Homo sapiens: one gene and its partners. The protein of the gene in region 3 purifies or fractionates together with the protein of the main gene of each other region. This does not show direct contact. Each region holds a gene or a part of one and is shown on either strand. Other genes may lie near its edges.

Region 1 (3,500 bases), on a different chromosome or scaffold from region 3:
TTAGATGACTTCTCCCTCACCACCCTAAAAGCTCTTCCACAGACAGGGCCCTTGTCTTAGAGCTCTGTGAACACACTCATGACACAGTGAGTGCTTATAAATACCACAACCACAGATGCCCTGCAGAAGGTCAAGGAGCCCGGCTACAAGGAACTAAAGAAGTGTGGCATACAAGAAAATTAACCAGGTGTGGTGGCGCATGCCTCTGGTCCCAGCTACTTGGGAGGCTGAGGCAGGAGAATTGCTTGAGCCCCAGAGGCAAAGGTTGCAGTGAGCAGAGATCGTGTCACTCACTGCACTCCAGCTTGGGCTACAGAGTGAGACTCCTTCTCAAAAAAAAAAAAAAAAAAAAGAAGATATGTGGCAGGGACAGGGCGGGGGTTTTAAAGGAACTCTAGATACCTCTTTGGTAAGTCCCACAAATGCCCACAGAATTAAAGCTCCCAATCAGAAACCATCTCAATCTCTCCAGGGGGAAAGCAGAAATACTCACCAGGCCTCAATTCACCAAGGGCCTAGACTTGAATATTTCATGATAAAAATAAATACTGCAAATATAACTCTAAAGCTCACTTCCCCAATGTTGTCCTTAGAGAATTAAAAAACTAAACCAAAAGATTCATTTCTACCTCTTCCCCCAACTCTTTTAAAACAGTATTGAAAGGGTTTTCTTGGCCAGGCGCAGTGGCTCACGCCTGTAATCTCAATATTTTGGGAAGCTGGGGCAGCTGGACCACTTGAGGTCAGGAGTTGGAGACCAGCTTTGCCAACAGGGTGAGACCCTGTCTCTACTAAAACAAAAAATACAAAAATTAGCTGGGCATGGTGGTGCGTGCCTGTGATCCCAGCTACTTGGGAGGCTGGGGCAAAAGAACTGCTTGAACCCAGGAGGTGGAGGTTGCAGTGAGATCATGCCACTGCATCCAGACTGAGCAACAGAGCGAGACTCTATCTTGAAAAAAAGGTTTCCTTGAACAACTACCACTTACCTGCTATCTGGGGAGATGATGGGAGGAACAAGCAATTTTCACAACTGGTTTGGTTTTTTTTTTGAGACAGAGTCTCGCTCTGTTGCCCAGGCTGGAGTGCAGCAGCGTGATCTCGGCTCACTGCATCCTCTGCTTCCTGAGTTCAAGCGATTCTTCTGCCTCAGCCTCCCAAGTAGCTGGGACTACAGGCGCACACCACCATGCCCGGCTCATATCTGTATTTTTAGTAGAGACGGGGTTTCACTACATTGGCCACACTGTTCTCAAACTCCTGACCTCGTGATCCACCCATCTCGGCCTCCCAAAGTGCTGGGATTACAGGCGTGAGCCACTGTGCCCGGCCACAACTGGTCTTTTTTAAACGTATGAGCTAAGGATAAAGGCTGGGGTGATGGATGCCGCGGGCCATCTGCAGGGGCTGGAGACAGAAATGAATATTCACCAAGTGCCTCTACCCTGCACTGGATTTGCCCCAAGTACTTTATCCACACAATCCCACGACTACCCTGTGAGGCAGAAGGCATTGTGCCCATTTAATGGATGAGGAAACTGAAGCTCTGGAATGCTAACTGTTTTGCCCAGGGTCACGCAGCAAGGTGGAATTCCAGGCCTGGCTCCAAAGCTGGTGCCCCTTCCTCTGGCCCAGGTGCTGCAGAATAAAACTAAAGAGGTCGGGTGCGGTGGCTCACGCCTGTAATCCCAGCACTTTGGGAGGCCGAGGCAGGTGGATCACAAGGTCAGGAGATTGAGACCATCCTGGCTAACACCGTGAAACCCCATCTCTACTAAAAAAAAAAATACAAAAAATTAGCTGGGCGTGGTGGCGGGTGCCTGTAGTCCCAGCTACGCAGGAGGCTGAGGCAGGAGAATGGCGTGAACCCGGGAGGCGGAGCTTGAACTGAGTGGAGATCGCGCCACTGCACTCCAGCCTGGGAGACAGAGCCAGACTCCGTCTCAAAAAAATAAATAAATAAATAAATAAATAAATAAATAAATAATATGGAAACCATTCTCCCTACCTTTAATTTACTTGGGAGGCTGAGGCAGGAGACTCGCTTGAACCTGATTCTCCTGCCTCAGTCTCCCAAGTAAATGGGATTACAGGTACACGCCACCATGCCCAGTTAATTTTTTGTATTTTAGTAGAGACAGAGTTTCACCATGTTGGCCAGGCTGGTCTTGAACTCCTGACCCCAAGTGATCCACCCACCTCGGCCTCCCAAAGTCCTGGGATTACAGCCGTGAGCTACCATGCCTGGCCCATTCTCCCTACCTTTCAAGACTTCCAAAATGAAGATATTCTACAAGGGGAAAATCTGTCCCTACTCTCAATCTTAGAAATGGCCTATTCCTAAAATAATATCAGAAACTATTTGCAGTGTGTGTGTTTTTTTGTTTTTTTGTTTTGTTTTGTTTTTGAGACAGAGTCTCGCTCTGTTGCCCAAGCTGGAGTACAGTGGCGCAATCTCGGCTCATTGCAAGCTCTGCCTCCCAGGTTCAAGCGATTCTCGTACCTCAGCCTCCCGAGTAGCTGGGTCTACAGGCGACCACCCACACACCCAGCTAATTTTTTTCTATTTTTAGTAGAGATGGAGTTTCACCATGTTGGTCAGGCTGGTCTCAAACTCCTGACCTCAGGTGATCTGCCTGCCTTGGCCTCCCAAAATGCTGGGATTACAGGTGTGAGCCACTGCGTCTGGCCTTTTTTTTTTTTTTTTTTAAGACAGAGTTTCATTCTTGTTGCCCAGGCTGGAGTGCAATGGCACAATCTTAACTCAGTACAACCTCCGCCTCCCAGGTTCAAACGATTCTCCTGTCTTAGCCCACAAAGTAACTGAGATTACAGGCATGCGCCACCACACCTGACTAATTTTGTATTTTAAGTACAGACGGGGTTTCACCATGTTGGTCAGGCTGGTCTTGAGCTCCTGACCTCAGGTGATCCACCTGCCTTGGGCTCCCAAAGTGCTGGGATTACAGGCATGAGGCACCACACCCGGCTCACAATGCTTTATAACACATCAAACAGAGTCAAAACAACTTTTCAAATATTAGGCCTTCAGAACCCTTCTTAACTGAAGGGTAGTTATTAATTACACTGTTTTGCAGATGTGTAACTAACTGCAGGACCACAGAGAGTTGAGACTTTGCCCGAAGCTACCCAGTAAGCCAGTGGCAGAAGTCTCCTAAGGCTCCTGAGGGTCCATCTGCTGCTTTTTTTTTTTTTTTTGAGACAGAGTTTCACCCTGTTGCCCAGGCTGGAGTGCAGTGGCGCGATCTCGGCTCACTGCAACCTCCACCTCCTGGGTTCAGCTGATTCTCCTGCCTCAGCCTCCTGAGTAGCTGGGATCACAGGCATGCGCCACCACGACTGGCTAATTTTTTTTTTGTATTTTTAGTAAAGATGGGGTTTCACCATATTGGCCAGGCTGGTCTCGAACTCCTGAGCTTGTGATCCACCCACCTCAGCCTCCCAAAGTGCTGGGATTACAGGCGTGAGCCACCACGTCC
Region 2 (3,500 bases), on a different chromosome or scaffold from region 3:
CCACAATGGACTGTGGTATGTGATGCAAGTGGTGAGCCAGCTCCTGGACCCCCGCACCTCAGAGTTCACTGCGGCCTTTGTGGGCCGCCTTGTTTCCACCCTCATCTCCAAGGCAGGGCGGGAACTCGGGGAGAATCTAGACCAGATTCTTCGTGCCATCCTCAGTAAGATGCAGCAGGCAGAGACGCTCAGTGTCATGCAGGTAAGAGAGCAGTGGGGAGTGGGCTTCCTACTCCCTGGCTGATAGAAATGAAAATTCGTATTTTGGTCCTGAGTTATTTTATTTTACCCTCTTACTAGCCTTGTAGGACAGTTAAGTAAAATGGGACCTGTCTGATCTGTTTGGCCTAAGAAACATGGACAAGGAAATCTCCCATGTTTTCTTGTCCTGTGGATAATACCCTCAGTGTAGACTGTATTTCTTATCTGACTGGCCAGTTCCCTCTCATCTCCTATGTCTCTGAAATTGATTTCCCTGAAGCAAATGTCCTTATTTTCTCCTAGTCCCTGATCATGGTGTTCGCTCATCTGGTGCACACTCAGCTAGAACCTCTCTTGGAGTTCCTGTGTAGCCTCCCAGGACCTACTGGCAAACCTGCTCTAGAGTTTGTGATGGCTGAGTGGACAAGCCGACAGCACCTGTTCTATGGACAGTATGAAGGCAAAGTCAGGTAGAACCTCATCTTTCTTTTCTGGGCATTCTGCCACCACTCATATTTCTTTTTTTTTTTTTTTTTTTTTTTTTTTTTTGAGACAGTCTCGCTCTGTCGCCCAGGCTGGAGTGCAGTGGCACAATCTTGGCTCACTGCAACCTCCACCTCCTAGGTTCAAGCAATTCTCCTGCTCCTGCCTCAGCCGTCCGAATATTACACACATGCACCACCATACCCAGTGAATTCTTTGTGTGTGTGTTTTTAGTAGAGAGAGGGTTTCACCATGTTGGCCAGGCTGGTCTTGAACTCCTGACCTCAAGTGATCCACCCACTTCGGCCTCCCACAGTGCTGGGATTACAGGTGTGAGCCACTGCTCCTGACACATATTTCTTTTTTTTCCTGATTTGCTCCATTGATTTTTGTTTGACATTTCAAATGGCTCTCTGTATTCCCTTTTCCCTGTCTTTCTTTATTGCTAACGCACATATGTGAATAGCTGCCATCTTGAAATCCCCAAAAGACAGTCAACACAGGTAGACTATATATTTCTGGTCTCTGTTTACAAGAGATCCCTTCTCTACCACAGACTTCACACAGCTAAGTGCTGCTAGTGGCTTATTTTCCTTTATAAGCCCAAGCCTTGGCCAGGCACAGTGGCTCACACCTATAATCCCAGCACTTTAGGAGGCTGAGGCGAGCAGATCACCGGAGGTCAGGAGTTCAAGACCAGCCTGGCAAACATGGTGAAACACTGTCTCTACTATAAATACAAAAAATAGCTGGATGTGGTTGTGGGTGCCTGTAATCCCAGCTACTCGGGAGGCTAAGGCAGGAGAATCGCTTGAACCAAGGAGGCAGATCACGCCATTGCACTTCAGCCTGGGCGACGAGCGAAATTGTCTCAGAAAAATAAAAATAAAAAACCCAACCTTCTAACCCTGGCTTCCTAACTTTTTATCCTGGATTTTTATACCACTGATTCTTATCACCTCGTTGCACCTTACAATATGGTGCAACCTTAGCTTTGTTCAAGAAGAACAGGTCACCTGTAATCCCGGCACTTTGGAAGACTGAGGTGGGCGAATTGCTTGAGACCCACCCGGGCAACATGGTGAAACCTGTGTCTACCAAAAAAATACAAAAATTAGCCAGGCACGGTGGCGCATGCCTATAGTCCCAGCTACTTGGGAGGCTGAGGTGGGAGGATCACCTGAACCCAGGGAGGTCAAGGCTGCAGTGAACCATGATCACACCACTGCACTCAGCCTGGGTGACAGAATGAGACCCTATCTCAAAAACAACAACAACAACAACAACAACAAAAAAGCACAGATCTCATTAAACCACCTCATGAACTCTAAAATCTCATTTTCAGCTGAACTCTCTTAGCTCTCCTAATTAGTTGTTAACGGAATTTTCACTATCAAATAGAGGGTCTTAGGACATAATTGCTTATCTCCTTGGAGTGAACTCGAGATGGGCGGCTGATTGACCTTTTTTTGGATCTTCCTTGCCAGCTCTGTGGCACTCTGTAAGCTGCTCCAGCATGGCATCAATGCAGATGACAAACGGCTACAGGATATCCGTGTGAAGGGAGAGGAGATCTACAGCATGGATGAGGGCATCCGCACCCGCTCTAAGTCAGCCAAAAGTGGGTGCTGCTGCGATTCTTCCAATCCTCTCCCTATACGAAGGGGCTAAGGATACCTGGGTGAAGGGAAGGAATGCACTGTGGTGTATATTTTTAAAACAATTGTTGGTGATGGGTTTGATAAAGAAGAAGCAGGAAACTTAGGTAAAAGGGATCAGAACATACGGTTTCTTCCTGTTGTGGAAAATGGACAAAAATAGGCCGGGCATGGTGGCTCACGCCTGTAATCCCAGCACTTGGTGGGAGGCCAGAGCGGATGGATCACTTGAAGTCAGGAGTTTGAGACTAGCCTGACCAACATGGTGAAATCCCGTCTTTACTAAAAATACAAAAATTAGCCAGGCATGGTGGTGGGCGCCTGTAATCCCAGCTACTTGGGAGGCTGAGGCAGGAGAATCGCTTGAACCTGGGAGGCAGAGGTTGCGGTGAGCAAAGATCGTGCCACTGCATTCCAGCCTGGACAACAAAATGAGACTCCGTCTCAAAAAAAAAAAAAAAAAAAAAATGCAGGCGTGGTGGCTCACACCTGTAATCCCAGCACTTTGGGAGGCCGAGGTGGGTGGATCGCCTGAGGCCGGGAGTTCGAGACCAGCCTGACCAACATAGAGAAACCCCGTCTCTACCAAAAATACAAAGTTAGCCAGGCATGGTGGCGCATGCCTGTAATCCCAGCTACTCGGGAGGCTGAGGCAGGAGAATCGCTTGAACCCGGGAGGTGGAGGTTGCAGTGAGCCAAGATCACGCCATTGCACTCCAGCCTGGGCAATAAGAGCAAAACTCTGTCTGAAGAAAAAAAAAAGACAAAAATAGTCTCAGGCACCAAGCATCCCAGCTTCCAGCTTCATTCAGAAGCGTGGGCACAGATAGTCAGCATGTCTTTGTTACTGAGTTGCCTTTGGCCTGTAACTCCAATGATTTGCAGGTAGGGAGTATAGAGCTGCTATCTTTAATGTAGATTTATAATTACCTCCGCTGTCTCTCAAATTCTAAGTCATTGGGACTGGAGTACTGGCTCTATACAGTTCCTTGGTTTCAGAGCTTTATTACTAACAAGACTGTATCTCCTTTAATCCCTGAACTCTCATCTCTCCCAGCTTCTGAACTGTTACAATACCAAACAATAAAGTTATTTAACTTTAAGTCACTCTTTGGAGACTGGATATAGTCAGGTACAGTGAAAGTCTGAGGGGTGGTG
Region 3 (3,500 bases):
ATAAAACACATGGAAGCAATGCATTTTACCCAGCACAAGTAAATCAAGATTCCTGTTACCTTTCCGTCCTTAATTGTAGCAAAACACGCAGCCTCAATTCTTGCAGCATGGTCAAAAAGTCCCATGTGGCGCAGCATCATCACGGCACTGAGCAGGAGGGCTGTGGGATTCGCCATGTCCTTGCCTGCAATGTCTGGAGCCGTCCCATGAACCTACACATCGGGAAAAGTAGCATCATCAAGGGAGAGACAAAAACTAACAGTCCTCTTCTGGGGAAGCTGGAGTCTTAACCATCTTTCCTCAGCAATACAAAATATGCACTGAAAGCTACTGCGTGCAATTCATCTGATATGGACTGAAGAAATAAAGTCTGGGTTGGGCGTGATAGCTCACACCTGTAATCGCAACACGTTGATAGGCCAAGGCAAGAAGATCACTTGAGGCCAGGAGTTCAAGACCAGCCTGGGCAACATAGTGAGACCCCATTTCTACAAAAAAATTAGCAATTAGCCAGGCATGGTGGTGCCTGACTACAGTGCCAGCTACTTGGGAGGCTGAGGCAGGAGGATTGCTTAAGCCTAGCAGTTCAAGCCTGCAGTGAGCTATGATCACACCAGTGTACTCCAGCCTGGGTGACAGAACAAGGCCCTAGCTCAAAAATAAATAAATAAATAAATAAAGACTTGGAGAAATAAAGAGCTAAAGTAATTTTTTTAAGTATAAAAATATGGACCAACAATCTTTTTCAGTCAATTTTTGGTAAAATATTTTAAGGAAGGAAGGATACATAATAAATACCTGGAGGGAAATGAAGAGATAAACCAAACATATATATATGTTTATATATGGGTGTATATAAAAACAAACATAGGCTGGGTGCAATGGCTCACACCTGTAATCCCAGCAACTTTGGGAGGCCAAGGCGGATGGATCATCTGAGATCAGGAGTTCAAGAACAGCCTGGCCAACATGGTGAAACCCCATCTCTACTAAAATACAAAAATTAGCCAGGTGTGGTGGCTCACACCTGTAATCCCAGCTACTTGAGAGGCTGAGGCAGGAGAATCACTTGAACCTGGGAGGCAGAGGTTGCAGTGAGCCAAGATCGCACCACTGTACTCCAGCGTGGGTGACAGAGCGAGACTCCGTCTCGAGAAAAAAAAAAAGCATCATTTTGTTTTGACAATTTGAAAAACTGGAGTTAAAGCATACTTATACAGATAACTCCTCCTGAGTTCACACGCTGTTCTGACCTGAGTTCTGTTTCAGGTGTCAGGGTCCTTACCGACTCAAAAATTGCAACCCCATTGGCTCCAATGTTGCCACTTGGTGTCACACCGAGACCTCCGATCAATCCTGCACACAAGTCACTAGCGGAAGAAAAGCATTTCAAAGAATGTTTTTAAAAATAAAACATCTCACCTAGCACCCAGATTTTAGTTTTTAATTATCATTCTCCACTAAAAGGAAGTAGCATTCCTTGGATAAATGGCTGATTCCAGGGCAAAGGTTAGGAAAATACAGATGAGCCTCGAGCATCTTACTGTGTCAGAAAGCAAGGCAAGGCTCAAAGAACAAAGGGCCGTGTCTAAAGGACACAGAAGACATGGTGAAGGGACCCCCATCAGCCAAGTTAGGACAACCTATGCATCAATATTCATGATTATGATGATGGATATATCACTGAATAAAACAGAAAACCATGTCCACAGCTGGGCTCAGTGGCTCATGCCTGTAATCCCAGCACTTTGGGAGGCCAAGGTGGGCAGATCACTTGAGGTCAGGAGTTCCAGACCAGCCTGGCCAACATGGCGAAACCCCGTCCCTACTAAAAATACAAAAATTAGCCAGGTGTGGTGGTGTGCACCTGTAATAATACCAACTACTCAGGGGAGGCAGGAGAATCACTCGAACCTGGGAGGTAGAGGTTGCAGTGAGCCGAGATTGTGCCACTGCACTCCAGCCTAGGCGACAGAGCAAGACTCTGCCTCAAAAAAAAAAAAAAAATGAAAATCACCATTTGGCCAACATCTTATGTCTGTGTGTGTCGGGGGGGGAGAGAGAGAGAGAGAGAAGCACAGACAAAGGAGAGGAGGAAGAGGAAGGGAGGGAAAGTGGGAAGGAGTAATAAAGTAAATGTGATAAAATGCTGACATCTGGAGAATGTGGAATCAGGGTGCTGAGTACAAGGGAATTCTTTGTACTATTCTTACAACTTTTCTGTAAGTCTGAAATTATGTCAAAAGTTACCAAAAAATAGTAACAATGACCACCCACCTACCTAGCTATACATAACAAAACCTTAAAATCAATCAATCAATCAAACATTTAAAAACTGGGAAGAGTGACCTAATAATGATTAGGGAGAAAGAGCCCAGCAATGATTTGGCAAATCAATGAAGGAACAAGCCACCCAACATGTAATCATTCATATCACAACCTGAACTGTTAGAATTCAATTCATATGTTACAACAAATACTCTATTTCACAATACTCAATTGAAAATGTTAAGCCATAATTATTTTAGGATGTTTATAAGTAAATCATAGGCTAAAATAAATAGGTTGCAGCCAGACTCACCTAAGGATGTCTCCATACAAATTTGGCATAACAAGAACATCAAATTGGGAAGGATCTTGTACCATCTACAAGGAATACATTTGTGCATTTAGTAATCAAAATCTGCATCCCCACAACACACAGACACCATTCACCATAAAAAGTAGCAGGTAAGTGTGAATATATACTTACATTCAAACATACTGTATCAAGGTACATCTCATTAAATTTAATATCTTTACAGCTTTCTGCAACTTCCCTGCATTTTTGTAGAAAAAGCCCATCTGACATCCGCCTGTATTTAATCAAATAAAAACTGCTGAAAAAAAAGTCTTACAGAAAGAAAAGAATCAAATCAAAGAAGTAAAGTAAGTTCAAGACATTTAAGTTCCAGAAGCCAAGCTACCTGATCCCAATTACAATAAAATTATTTCTTAGGTAGTTAATAAAATATAAGCTGAAAATGTTTTAGGATCCTTCTGAAAGTATAAAAGAGTAAAAATGTAAAATAGTTTGATCATAACAGAGAAGACTATATTTTTATAGTGTTATCTAACAAGAATGAAGAAATACCCACTAATATTATTAAAATTGCTTTAAAAGGTTAACATAGTAATTTAAATAGTTTTACTATTTTGCATGTTCAATGCTTTTCTTAGGTTAGGAAAACTGTTAATATATTCAGAGGACTTTAACAGCCTCTGGATGAGAATTTAAGTTGCTGGAGTAACACATCAGGTATTGTTAGCACTACTTTAAGCCTCCCACTATTCCACTTCTAAAACGTACGCTATGTGGCCTCTGCTGATGGCCACAGCATCTGGGGACCCCGAGGCTCCAATTTCCTTTCCTGATAACCCTCAGTCCTTCCTTGAGCTTCCAGGACCTGAATCACCATCCCCTCCTCATTTGCTCCTGTCATTCGCCCAGGGAGGCGCAG
Region 4 (3,500 bases), on a different chromosome or scaffold from region 3:
TTTCCATCTCCTATGCCACAACTGTGGGCCAAGCCATGATCATCTCTTGCCTGGGATCACTGCAATAATCTCATTAGCTTCCCTGCTTCTACTCTTCTTCATCTCTAATCCCTGTCTTACACGTACCCAAAATAGTATTTTAACAACATAAATCATGTCACTTCCCAGCCTGAATTTCAGAAAATTCAGAGTCCTCACAGCCCAGTAAGGCCAGAGATCATCTCGTCTCCCCTTTCTTCTTTACATTTATAGCCACACTGGCCTCTTTTCCACCTTTAAAATAGCTACTTTTCTCACTTTCACTTGCATTTCTCGTTTTGCTTGGAATGCTCTTCTTGCAGCTATTTACATGGCAGACCCACTATGAACCATCAGATTGCAACTCAAATGCCACATCCTCAGAAATTCTTAATGCAGTCTCTCTCCATTACTTTATTTCATTACACCGTGCATATCTTATATAGCCCTTCTGCACTTGTAATTGTCTTATTTAATATCATCCCCCCTGATATGCCACCCTGCCACCCAGAATATCTTAAGGCCTATGAGAACAGGGACCAAGTCTTATTCCTCCCAGAATTCATTTTTCACTTGACATGGTGTCCATGTATCTATCATTCTACCTACTTAGCTGTCTTCTTCCTCTAGAATATAAATCTCAAGCCTATTCTGGTCACTGCAGTATTTCCAGCTCCTAAAAGAGTGCTACACATTAGGTTTTGAATCAATTAGCTGATAAAGTCACTGAACAAAAGTGGTTTTCTGTTAGTGCTTTTATTTATGTTGCTTCTTTGCTCAGAATATACCTAACTGCTCGCTCTCTTTCTTGGTTTAGATAATACTTCCTCCTTCTTTAAGAATCAGATCAGGTAATTAACCTCTAGGAAGTCTTACCTGACCCCTCCAGTGGTCAATACAGTACAGTAGTCTTTTAAGCACATGTGTTTTAGACAAAGCTGGTATTTTAACACACTAGGTCTATGCTCTATACATTCTCGATTTTTTAAAAATGTATTTTTAAACATGTCTAACGCTCTATACATTTTTGATTCTTAAAAATCTGCCAAATAAGAGTAATAATATGCATACCTCATAAAGGTAGACATTTAAAAAAATTACTTGTAAAACACATGGCTTAAGTATATGGCACACAGTGAGAACTCAATAAAAAGATGCTATTAGGCTAGGTTGGGAACTCGTGTTCTCTGCTCATATAACATGCTCTGTATATACCCAGCAAGGTAGTAATATCTTGGGTTGCAATAATCACGTGTTTGGTTCGTCCCACATAAGACAGTAACTTCTTTGAGGCCGGTGATCAGATCTCAAAACTCTTAAGTCTCTAGTACCTTAGGATAGTGCCTGGCACACAGTAGTTGTTCAACAAACTTAAAAAAGGTGAAAAACCAAATAGCAAAAAAAAATTAAAGAGGGAAATCAGTCTAGAGCTGCATGCCATCCAATATGACAACTACTAGCAAGATATTTTAATTTGAATTAAATAAAATTTAAAAATCCTGTCTTTTAGTTGCACTAGCCACTGAAAACTAGAAGTCAGTATTCACACATGGCTAGTGGCTACTGTACTAAACAATATACAGAACATTCCTATTATCACAGAAAGCTCTACTAGACAATGCTAGTCTAGAGACTGTGAAAACAAATAATGGCACCTATTATTTAATTTAAGATAAATAATAACTGAAAATTCTACCCACTTCAAGGCACTGTGCTAGGTTATGGTGCTATGAACACATAGGATCCCAAAGAGACACTGTCTTTAAAAACCATAAAAGCTAGCATATGCACTGTAGGTACTATTATTTCATTTATCTTGGGTTCACACAGAAAAAAAAAAAATCACAAACACCAAGAATTTTACTAGAAAACTGGTTACAATTAAGGCCTAGGTCCTCTATAGTTATGAGATTCTGCACATGCAGAACACAGAATGTTTCACCACCTCAGGTCTCACAGGATCTTCAATCCCCACAACAGCAATGCATGTAAGGCCGGTGACAATATCATTTTCATTATCCCACTCTGGTTCTGGTTCTCCTGCTGGAAAATCTCTGAATGCAAGACATATGGTTCTCAAGCCTTCTGATGCCATCGGTTCAATCACAGTTTTTACAATATCATCACGGTCCCTTGGTCTGAATACTTTTGCCTCACCATTAGCACTCAAGATTTTGAAACACCTAAAAGGAAATGTTGAATCCAAACATCAATAATTTAAAAAAATAATGGTTAATGCCATTTAAGTGAACTGGCAGGCCTAGAAATCATGGGATCTGATATCTGGAATTTAGAGAATTACATATAATTCATTTTTATAGACTTAAATTCACTTTTCACCCTCCCTTTTACAAAACAGAACTAATATGTATGGTTCTCATTTGACAGTTCTCCATTTATCAATTACTCTAGAACTTCTCTAAACCTTGTCTTTTGGAAATGCAGTGCTTTCAAACTTTCATAAAGAATCCCTGGGTGGCAAAGGAGAATAAACTATATACTTCACCATTTTGGTACAGAATCAGACATTAGTTTGAAATAATACCAAAATCACAAATGTTTTCTTCTTTTAAGGTAAAAAGCCAAGCGTAGTCAACCCCTTACCTGAGATGTTGTTTCATCACCTATATTGTTTTAACCATGAAAGAAAAAAAATAACTTATTGTTAAAATAAGCATTCTATCAGAATGAGAGTTAATGCCAAAAGTTATTTTCAGTGACACTACTACCTTTTCTTTCATTACATAATGAATAAAAATCATACTATATACCTATTTAAAGTTTGTTTTTCATAATGCCTCTCTATACTCCTCTCCCTTGATGATGCCATCTCTTCCTGCTTCTAGGGAGGTAATTCCCAAATCCACATCTTCTGTTTTGTTTTTCAAAGCTTTCCATCACTGCTGAAAAATTCTACCCAGATGTTTTATCAGTACCTAAACCTTAATGGATGAAAGACTGGAAGCTGCCTCTTCACTGCCCATGTAATGTGCATCAACATTACCCTAATCATTTTGATGTAAGTCTAAAATTTCACCTTAATACTTATTTTTCCTGATCATCTCTCTACTATTAGCTCCTAAGTCCTATACATTTCTCCTCTGAACAGCCTCCTCAATGTGTCCACTCCTTTTTATTTCTCCTGCTACTACTTTCTTCTGGTTCTTACTTCAAGCTACAAAGCTACAGCTATTGTAATAGCAATAGCCTTTTAACTGATATGTCTCTAGTTGATTTTTTTTTTCCCTCTAACCCACCTTGTTCCCTGATGCAAGAATTATCTTTAATCACAGCTTTGATGATTCTACTACTTGAAGAAAAAAATACCTCATTTGCATTATCTGGCTTACTTCAATTTTAACTGCTCAGCCCAACATTTAAAAAGTCTCCACAACAAAATGCAAATATTACTGTGGGAACACTTGCTGTATGTTTACTGTCCACCAGGCTTCACACTAGACAGTTGGTATGCATTACTTCAT
Region 5 (3,500 bases), on a different chromosome or scaffold from region 3:
AGGTGTGTGCCACCACACCCAGCTAATTTTTTTTCTTTTCGTTTTTCAGACAGGGTCTCACTCTGTCACCCAGGCTGGAGTGTAGTGACATAATCATGACTCACTACAGCCCCAACCTCTGGGGCTCAAGCAATCCTCCCACCTCAGCCTCCCAAGTAGCTGGGACTACAGGCATGCATTACCATACCCAGCTAATTTTTTGTAGAGATGGGGTTTCACTATGTTGCCTAGGCTGGTCTCAAACTCCTGGGGCTCAAGCGATCCTCCTGCCTTGAGCCTCCCAAAGTGCTGGGATTACAGGTGTGAGACATCTTGCCTGGCTCTTATTTTTTTTCTTTTCTTTTCTTTTTTTTTTAATTTTTGAGACAGAGTCTCGCTCTGTCACCCAGACTGGAGTAAAATGCTGTGATCTCAGCTCATTGCAACCTCTACCTCCCGGGTTCAAGCGATTCTCATGCCTCAGCCTCCCAAATAGCAGGGATTATAGGCAGTGCACCACCACACCTGGCAAATTTTTCTATTTTTAGTGGATGGGGTTTCACCATGTTGGCTGGGCTGGTCGTCTTCAACTCCTGACCTCAAGTGATCCACCTGCCTCGGCCTCCCAAAGCGCTGGGATTACAGGCGTGAGCCACCAGCGCCCGGCCCCGGCTGTTATTTTCTAAAGTGAACGTGTAGGTTTTTAAAACTTAAAAAAAAAAAAAAAACAACAAATGTGTATTTTAAAACTCACTGTATACCTGAAAGAGAACTTCCTTATTTTAACTTCTTGCTTATCAATTTATTAACTAAACTAGCAAACATCCAATAGGAACACAGCTCAAACATGTTCTTGTGAAGATCTGTTTCCTACCTTTTGAATACACAGGAAAATATAGTAGAGCACATCTGGGTCATAGGGTTCACCTTCTCCATTTCGAGCTTCCCGTGTCATTAGACAGAGCCCATAATTCAACTCTGCCACAGCAGAGGAGATGAGATCTTCCTGGAATCGCAGCAGTTGGCGCCCTGCAACGGAAGCCTCAAAAATGAATGAAGGTCCTGGGGGTCCATATCTGGAAGGCTCAGAACAGATACTGCCCATCAGGGTGCTGGGATAGAAATGCTCACTTGTATCTACTAGAATGTTTCATGCCTGTAATGTCAGAACTGGCCTATAACATGAGTATATGAGCCTAATGCCAAGAAAGAAGGGCTTGAGTGCCTATCCCTGGTTCCCATTTCCTCCCAGAAGCCACTCTGCTTAGGTCTGGTAGGGTCAACTCCTGAAACCCGTATGTCTAAAAATGCCTGGTTTTGGGCAAACCCCACATATCCTGCTTATTATGTACACAAGGTCAGTACTGCTTGTTACTAGGCTTGAATTCAACATACTATTACAGATGTTGCTCTCTTGTCCCCAAGACAGGAGACACCACTTTTCTGGCATTTTGTCCTCCTGTTACTTTAGTACCATTGCATTTTAGACACAGCCCACTCTTCTTCCAAGACACTCACTCCCAATGGGTGCCAATCTGTTCTGAGCATCCTTCTCTAGTTCAGCATTCTTGGTCTGGGCCCAGTTTTTCCATACTTCAAGCCCTTCTTCTGGCTTCAAAGAATTTGGAAGCAGAAGTTCTGGGGAAGGCTGTGGCTGTGACTGTGGTTCAACTTCAGCAACCTGGACAGTTTGAGCCTATAGGAGAGAAACCATGAAAATGTGTCAATATTGTTTTATATTAGATCCTTCTGCAAAATTGCCAGAAAAATGTTATGTATAGTTCATTTATTTAAGAAAATATTTCTCTACTCATTGCTGTCCTACTTTTAAGAAGCTTTGGAGTTCTACCTCTTGCCCCAGGGACAGCAAAAGCAGCACTGCAACTGGGCTAGTGCAGTGCTTCTCAGCCTTGGCTGCACTTTTAAATGTTTTTTTTTTTTTTTTTTTTTGAGACGGAGTTTTCCTCTTGTTGCTCAGGCTGGAGTGCAATGGCGCAATCTCAGCTCACTGCACCCTCCGCCTCCCGGGTTCAAGTGAGTCTCCTGTCTCAGCCTCCCGAGTACCTGGGTTTACAGGCATGCACCAACACGGCCAGCTAATTTTATAATTTTAGTCGAGACGGAGTTTCGCCATGTTGGTCAGGCTGGTCTTGAACTCCCAACCTCAGGTAATCTGCCCGCCTCAGTCTCCCAAAGTGCTGGGATTACAGGCGTGAACCACTGTGCCCGGTCAAATCTTTTATTTAAAAACACTAATAGCCAGACTTACCCCAGAATCTCTCTGAGGGGGAGCCAAGGTATCAATTGTTTAAAAACTCCTTGAGTAAGATTGCACCACTGCACTCCAGCCTGGTGATAGAGCGAGACTCTGTCTCGAAAAAAGAAAAAAGAAAAAACAAAACAAAACAAAAAAACTCCTCAAGTAAAAAAGTAATTCTAATGTTTGGTCACCACTGAGAACTACTGGCTCAAAGCACTGCTCCCACAGTCTTTAATGTGCAAACAAATCACTTGGGGATTTTATCAAAATGCATATTCTGATTGAAAAGGGTAGGAACTGAGACAACATTTCTTTCTTTCTTTTTTTTTTTTTTGGCGGGGAAAGAGTTTCGCTCTTGTTCTTGGATGCTGGAGTGCAATGGCAGGATCTCGGCTCACCTCAACCTCTGTCTCCCGGGTTCAAGCTATTCTCCTGCCTCAGCCTCCCAAGTAGCTAGGATTACAGGCATGTGCCACCACGCCCGGCTAATTTTGTATTTTTAGTAGAGATGGGGTTTCTCCATGTTGGTCAGGCTGGTCTTGACTCCCATCTTCAGGTGATCCGCCCTCCTCAGCCTCCCAAAGTGCTGGGACTACAGGCTTGGGCCATCGGCCGAGAGCACTGATTCTTAAACTGGGTCTCACCTTGAAATCATCTGGATTGCTTTAAAAAAAAAAAAAAAAAAAAACCCACCCTGGCCGGGTGCAGTGGCTCACACCTGTAGTCCCAGCACTTTGGGAGGCCGAGGTGGGTGGATCACGAGGTCAAGAGACTGAGACCATCCTGGCTAACACGGTGAAACCCCATCTCTACTAAAATACAAAAAAATCAGCCGGGTGTGGTGGCGGGCGCCTGTAGTCCCAGCTACTCAGGAGGCTGAGGCAGGAGAATGGCATGAATCCAGGAGGCGGAGCTTGCAGTGAGCCGAGATCGCACCACTGTACTCCAGCCTGGGTAACAGAGTGAGACTCTGTTCACAAAAAAAAAAACCAAAAAAAAAAAAAAAGAAAGAAACCTCACACTTGGGCCTTATCTCCAGCCATTGTAAGGTAGAGGCACATTGTCAGTATTTTTAAAAGCTTCCCATGTGATTTTTTTTTTTTCCCTCTGAGATGGAGTCTTGCTCTTTCGCCTAGGCTGGAGTGCAGTGGCACGATCTCGGCTCACTGCAACCTTCACCTCCCAGGTTCAAACGATTCTCCTTTCTCAGCCTCCCGAGTAGCTAGGATTACAGATATGCACCACCATGCCCAACTAATTT
Region 6 (3,500 bases), on a different chromosome or scaffold from region 3:
CTACCTTCAATGATCTTTGCTGCAAACTCTCGGATAGACTTGAGGGAAGCCAAGTCCAGGTGCCGGGCGTTGACATGGTGATTGAGGGTCTCCCCGCGGATGTCCTTTGCTGCCGCCTCACACTTCTCCATGTCTCGGCAGGCCAGGATGATGTTGCCTCCTGAAAACCCAGGATGGAAAAAGATTTAAATTAATAATCCACTCCTGGGTACTGACCCCAGAGACATGAAAACATACGTCTACACAAAAACACATCCACCAATGTTCACTGCGGCATTCTTCACAAAAGCCAAAAGGTAGAAACAACCAAATGCCCATCTGTGGATGAAGGGACAACAAAATGTGGTCCATCCATAGAGATGGAATATTAGACGGCCGTGAAAAGGAGTGAAGCACTGGCTCATGCTACAGCAAGGATGACCGTCAGAAACACTGTGCTCGGGGAAAGAAACCAGACACGAAAGACCACACAGCGTACAATCCCATTTACATGAATTCTATGTATATGATTTCACACCTATGAAACGCCCAGAATAGGCAAATCCATAGAGAAAGAAAATAGATTCTTGGTTTTCTAGGGCAGGGGGTGGGGAGAGGGAATTACAGCTTGATAGTTACAGTGAGCAGGTTTCTTTCTAGGGTAACAGATGTTCTAAGATTGATTTTAAAGATGGTTGCATCATTCTGTGACTATACTAAACATCACTGAATTGGTCGGGCACGGTGGCTCACACCTGTAATTCCAGCACTTTGGGAGGCCAAGGCAAGAGGATTCCCCATCCTCTCCTTTTTTTTTTTTTTTTAGATGGAGTCTCACTCTGTCACCCAGGCTGGAGTGCGGTGGCGCAATCTCGGCTCACTGCAACCTCCACCTCCTGGGTTCAAGCAATTCTCCTGCCTCAGCCTCCCGAGTAGCTGGGATTACAGGCACCTACCACAACTAGCTAATTTTTTATTTTTTTATTTTTAGTAGAGACAGCGGTTTCACCATGTTAGCCAAGCTAGTCTTGAACTTCTGACCTCAGGTGATCCACCCCGCGGCCTCCCAAAGTACTGGGATTACAAATAAGCCACAATGCCCAGCCTCCAATTTTTTTTGTTGTGGTAAAATACAAATCACTTAAAATTTATCATCTTAACCCCCTTTTCTTTTTGTTTATTATTATTTTTTTTTTTTTGAGTCAGTCTCACTCTGCTGCCGCGGCTGGAGTGCTGGCGCCATCACAGCTCATTCAGCCTTGAACTCCTAGGCTCAAGTGACCTGGGACTATAGGTACCACCTGTGCCAGCATGCCTGGCTAACTCTGGTAGAGATGGGGGTGTTGCTATGGTGTCCAGGCTGGTCTGGAACCCCTGGCCTCAAGTGATCCTCCTGCCTCAGCCTCCAAAAGTGCTGGAATTATAGATGTGAGCCACCGAGACCCGCCCTCTTAGCCATTTTTAAGTGTCCAGTTCATTGGTATTAAAAACATTTATGGCTGGGCCGGGCATGGTGGCTCACACCTGTAATCCCAGCACTTTGGGAGACCAAGGCAGGTGGATCACCTGAGGTCAGGAGTTCAAGACCAGCCTGGCCAACACATTACAAACTTAGCTGGGTGTGGTGTTGCATGCCTGTAATCCCAGCTACTCGGGTGGCTGAGGCAGGAGAATTGCTTGAACCCGGGAGGCGAAGGTTGCAGTGAGCCAAGATCATGCCACTGCACTCCAGCCTGGGCGACAAGAGCAAAACTCCATCTCAAAAAAAAAAAAACAATAATAATAATTCCTAATGTTGTGCAACCATTACAACCATCCATCTCTCAAATTGTTTCATCTTGCCAAACTAAACTTCCGTTTCCATTAAACAGTAACTCCCCATTCTCCCCTCCCCTCCTGACCCCTGGCAAGCACCATTCCAACTTCTCTATGAATTTAACTGTAGGTAGCTCCTGTAAGTGGAATCATACCGTATTTGCTCTTCTGTCGACTGGCTTATTTCACTTCATGGAATGTCCTCAAGGTTCATCTGTTTCAATGCCCTTTTTTTTGTTTTGCTTTGTTTTGTTTTGTTTTTGAGTCTCACTCTGTCACCCAGGCTGGAGTGCCGTGGCGCCATCTCTGCTCACTGCAACCCCTGCCTCTCAGGTTCAAGCGATTCTCCTGCTTCAGCCTCCCAAGCAGCTGGGACTACAGGTGCCCACCACAACTCCTGGCTAATTTTTGTATTTTTAGTAGAGAGGGGGTTTCACCATGTTGGTTAGGCTGGTCTCGAACTCCTGACCTCGTGATCCGCCAGCTTTGGCCTCCCAAAGTACTGATTACAGGCGTGCACCACCGCGCCCGGCCAGAATGCCCTTCCTTTTTAAGGCTGAATCATATGCCCCTGTCTATAGAAGCCACATTCTGTTTCCCTGTTCATCTGTGGATGGGTGCCTGGGTTCCTTCCACCTCCGGACTGTGAATAATGCTGCAGTGAGCATGGATGTACAGATATCTCTCTGAGAGCCAAAGCAGGGGAGATTTTACCTCTCCTGGCCAGTTCCAAGGCGGTCTGCTTCCCGATGCCTGTGTTGGCACCCGTCACGATGACCGTCTTCCCAGGGATGGTGGCCTTGCTGGGGCAAGCCCCACCGGTGACATAGTCCCTGAGGGTGAGAAGCGGCACGGTCAGTCCTGTGGGCCCACTCTCACCCCACGTGCCCCTGACTGAATGATCTCAGGCAACCTTGTCTGAGCTCACTCACATACCCCAACTGAAACACAGACATCATCACATCACACCAAGGGACCTCTGTCATGTTCTCCATAAGTGGCTCCACCCAGTGTCTGGCGTGTGGAACGCCTTCAGCAAGTGACAGTCATTATTTTATAAATGCTCACTGCATGAGATTCCCGGCCAGGTGAGGGGGCTTGCACCTGTAATCCCAGCACTTTGGGAGGCCAAAGTTTTGGGGGTGGGGGGGGGCGGGGGCGGATCACTTGAGGTCAGGAGTTCGAGTCCAGCCTGGCAAACATGGCGAGACCCCGTCTCTACTTAAAATACAAAAATTAGCCAGATGTGTAGGGAAAAGAGAGATTAGACTGTTACTGTGTCTATATAGAAAGGAAAGACATAAGAGACTCCATTTTGAAAAAGACCTGTACTTTGAACAATTGCTTTGCTGAGATGTTGTTAATTTGTAGCTTTGACCCAGCCACTTTGACCCAATCTGGAGCTCACAAAAACCTGTGTTGTATGAAATCAAGGTTTAAGGGATCTAGGGCTGTGCAGGAAGTGCCTTGTTAACACAATGTTTCCAAGCAGTATACTTGGTAAAAGTCATCGCCAGTCTCTAGTCTCAATAAACCAGGGGCACGATGCACTGCAGAAAGCTGCAGGGACCTCTGCCCTTGAACACAGAGTATTGTCCAAGGTTTCTCCCCGTGGGATAGTCTGAAATATGGCCTCGTGGGATGAGAAAGACCTGACCGTCCCCCAGCCCAACACCCGTAAAGGGTCTGTGCTGAGGTGGATTGGT

The links.
Region 1: the proteins of IDH3A (region 3) and ACO2 fractionate together in Homo sapiens (co-fractionation; one large-scale study listed by BioGRID). This does not show direct contact.
Region 2: the proteins of IDH3A (region 3) and IPO9 fractionate together in Homo sapiens (co-fractionation; one large-scale study listed by BioGRID). This does not show direct contact.
Region 4: the proteins of IDH3A (region 3) and ATP2B1 fractionate together in Homo sapiens (co-fractionation; one large-scale study listed by BioGRID). This does not show direct contact.
Region 5: the proteins of IDH3A (region 3) and QRICH1 fractionate together in Homo sapiens (co-fractionation; one large-scale study listed by BioGRID). This does not show direct contact.
Region 6: the proteins of IDH3A (region 3) and RDH13 purify together in Homo sapiens (affinity purification with mass spectrometry, with the first as the bait; one large-scale study listed by BioGRID). This does not show direct contact.

The regions. Positions count from the first base shown.
Region 1 is NC_000022.11:41,475,617-41,479,116, reverse strand, and holds part of ACO2 (aconitate hydratase, mitochondrial precursor), read right to left. Parts: intron 1-3,500. UniProt on the Homo sapiens protein: Catalyzes the isomerization of citrate to isocitrate via cis-aconitate.
Region 2 is NC_000001.11:201,870,657-201,874,156, forward strand, and holds part of IPO9 (importin-9), read left to right. Parts: coding exon 1-202; intron 203-504; coding exon 505-671; intron 672-2,171; coding exon 2,172-2,305; intron 2,306-3,500. UniProt on the Homo sapiens protein: Nuclear transport receptor that mediates nuclear import of proteins, such as histones, proteasome and actin. Serves as receptor for nuclear localization signals (NLS) in cargo substrates.
Region 3 is NC_000015.10:78,162,862-78,166,361, reverse strand, and holds part of IDH3A (isocitrate dehydrogenase [NAD] subunit alpha, mitochondrial precursor), read right to left. Parts: intron 2,856-3,500; coding exon 2,753-2,855; intron 2,647-2,752; coding exon 2,582-2,646; intron 1,371-2,581; coding exon 1,286-1,370; intron 213-1,285; coding exon 60-212; intron 1-59. UniProt on the Homo sapiens protein: Catalytic subunit of the enzyme which catalyzes the decarboxylation of isocitrate (ICT) into alpha-ketoglutarate.
Region 4 is NC_000012.12:89,614,839-89,618,338, forward strand, and holds part of ATP2B1 (plasma membrane calcium-transporting ATPase 1), read right to left. Parts: intron 2,202-3,500; coding exon 1,964-2,201; intron 1-1,963. UniProt on the Homo sapiens protein: Catalyzes the hydrolysis of ATP coupled with the transport of calcium from the cytoplasm to the extracellular space thereby maintaining intracellular calcium homeostasis.
Region 5 is NC_000003.12:49,045,572-49,049,071, forward strand, and holds part of QRICH1 (transcriptional regulator QRICH1), read right to left. Parts: intron 1,676-3,500; coding exon 1,498-1,675; intron 1,009-1,497; coding exon 854-1,008; intron 1-853. UniProt on the Homo sapiens protein: Transcriptional regulator that acts as a mediator of the integrated stress response (ISR) through transcriptional control of protein homeostasis under conditions of ER stress.
Region 6 is NC_000019.10:55,056,649-55,060,148, forward strand, and holds part of RDH13 (retinol dehydrogenase 13 isoform 1 precursor), read right to left. Parts: intron 2,628-3,500; coding exon 2,509-2,627; intron 161-2,508; coding exon 5-160; intron 1-4. UniProt on the Homo sapiens protein: Retinol dehydrogenase with a clear preference for NADP. Oxidizes all-trans-retinol, but seems to reduce all-trans-retinal with much higher efficiency. Has no activity toward steroids.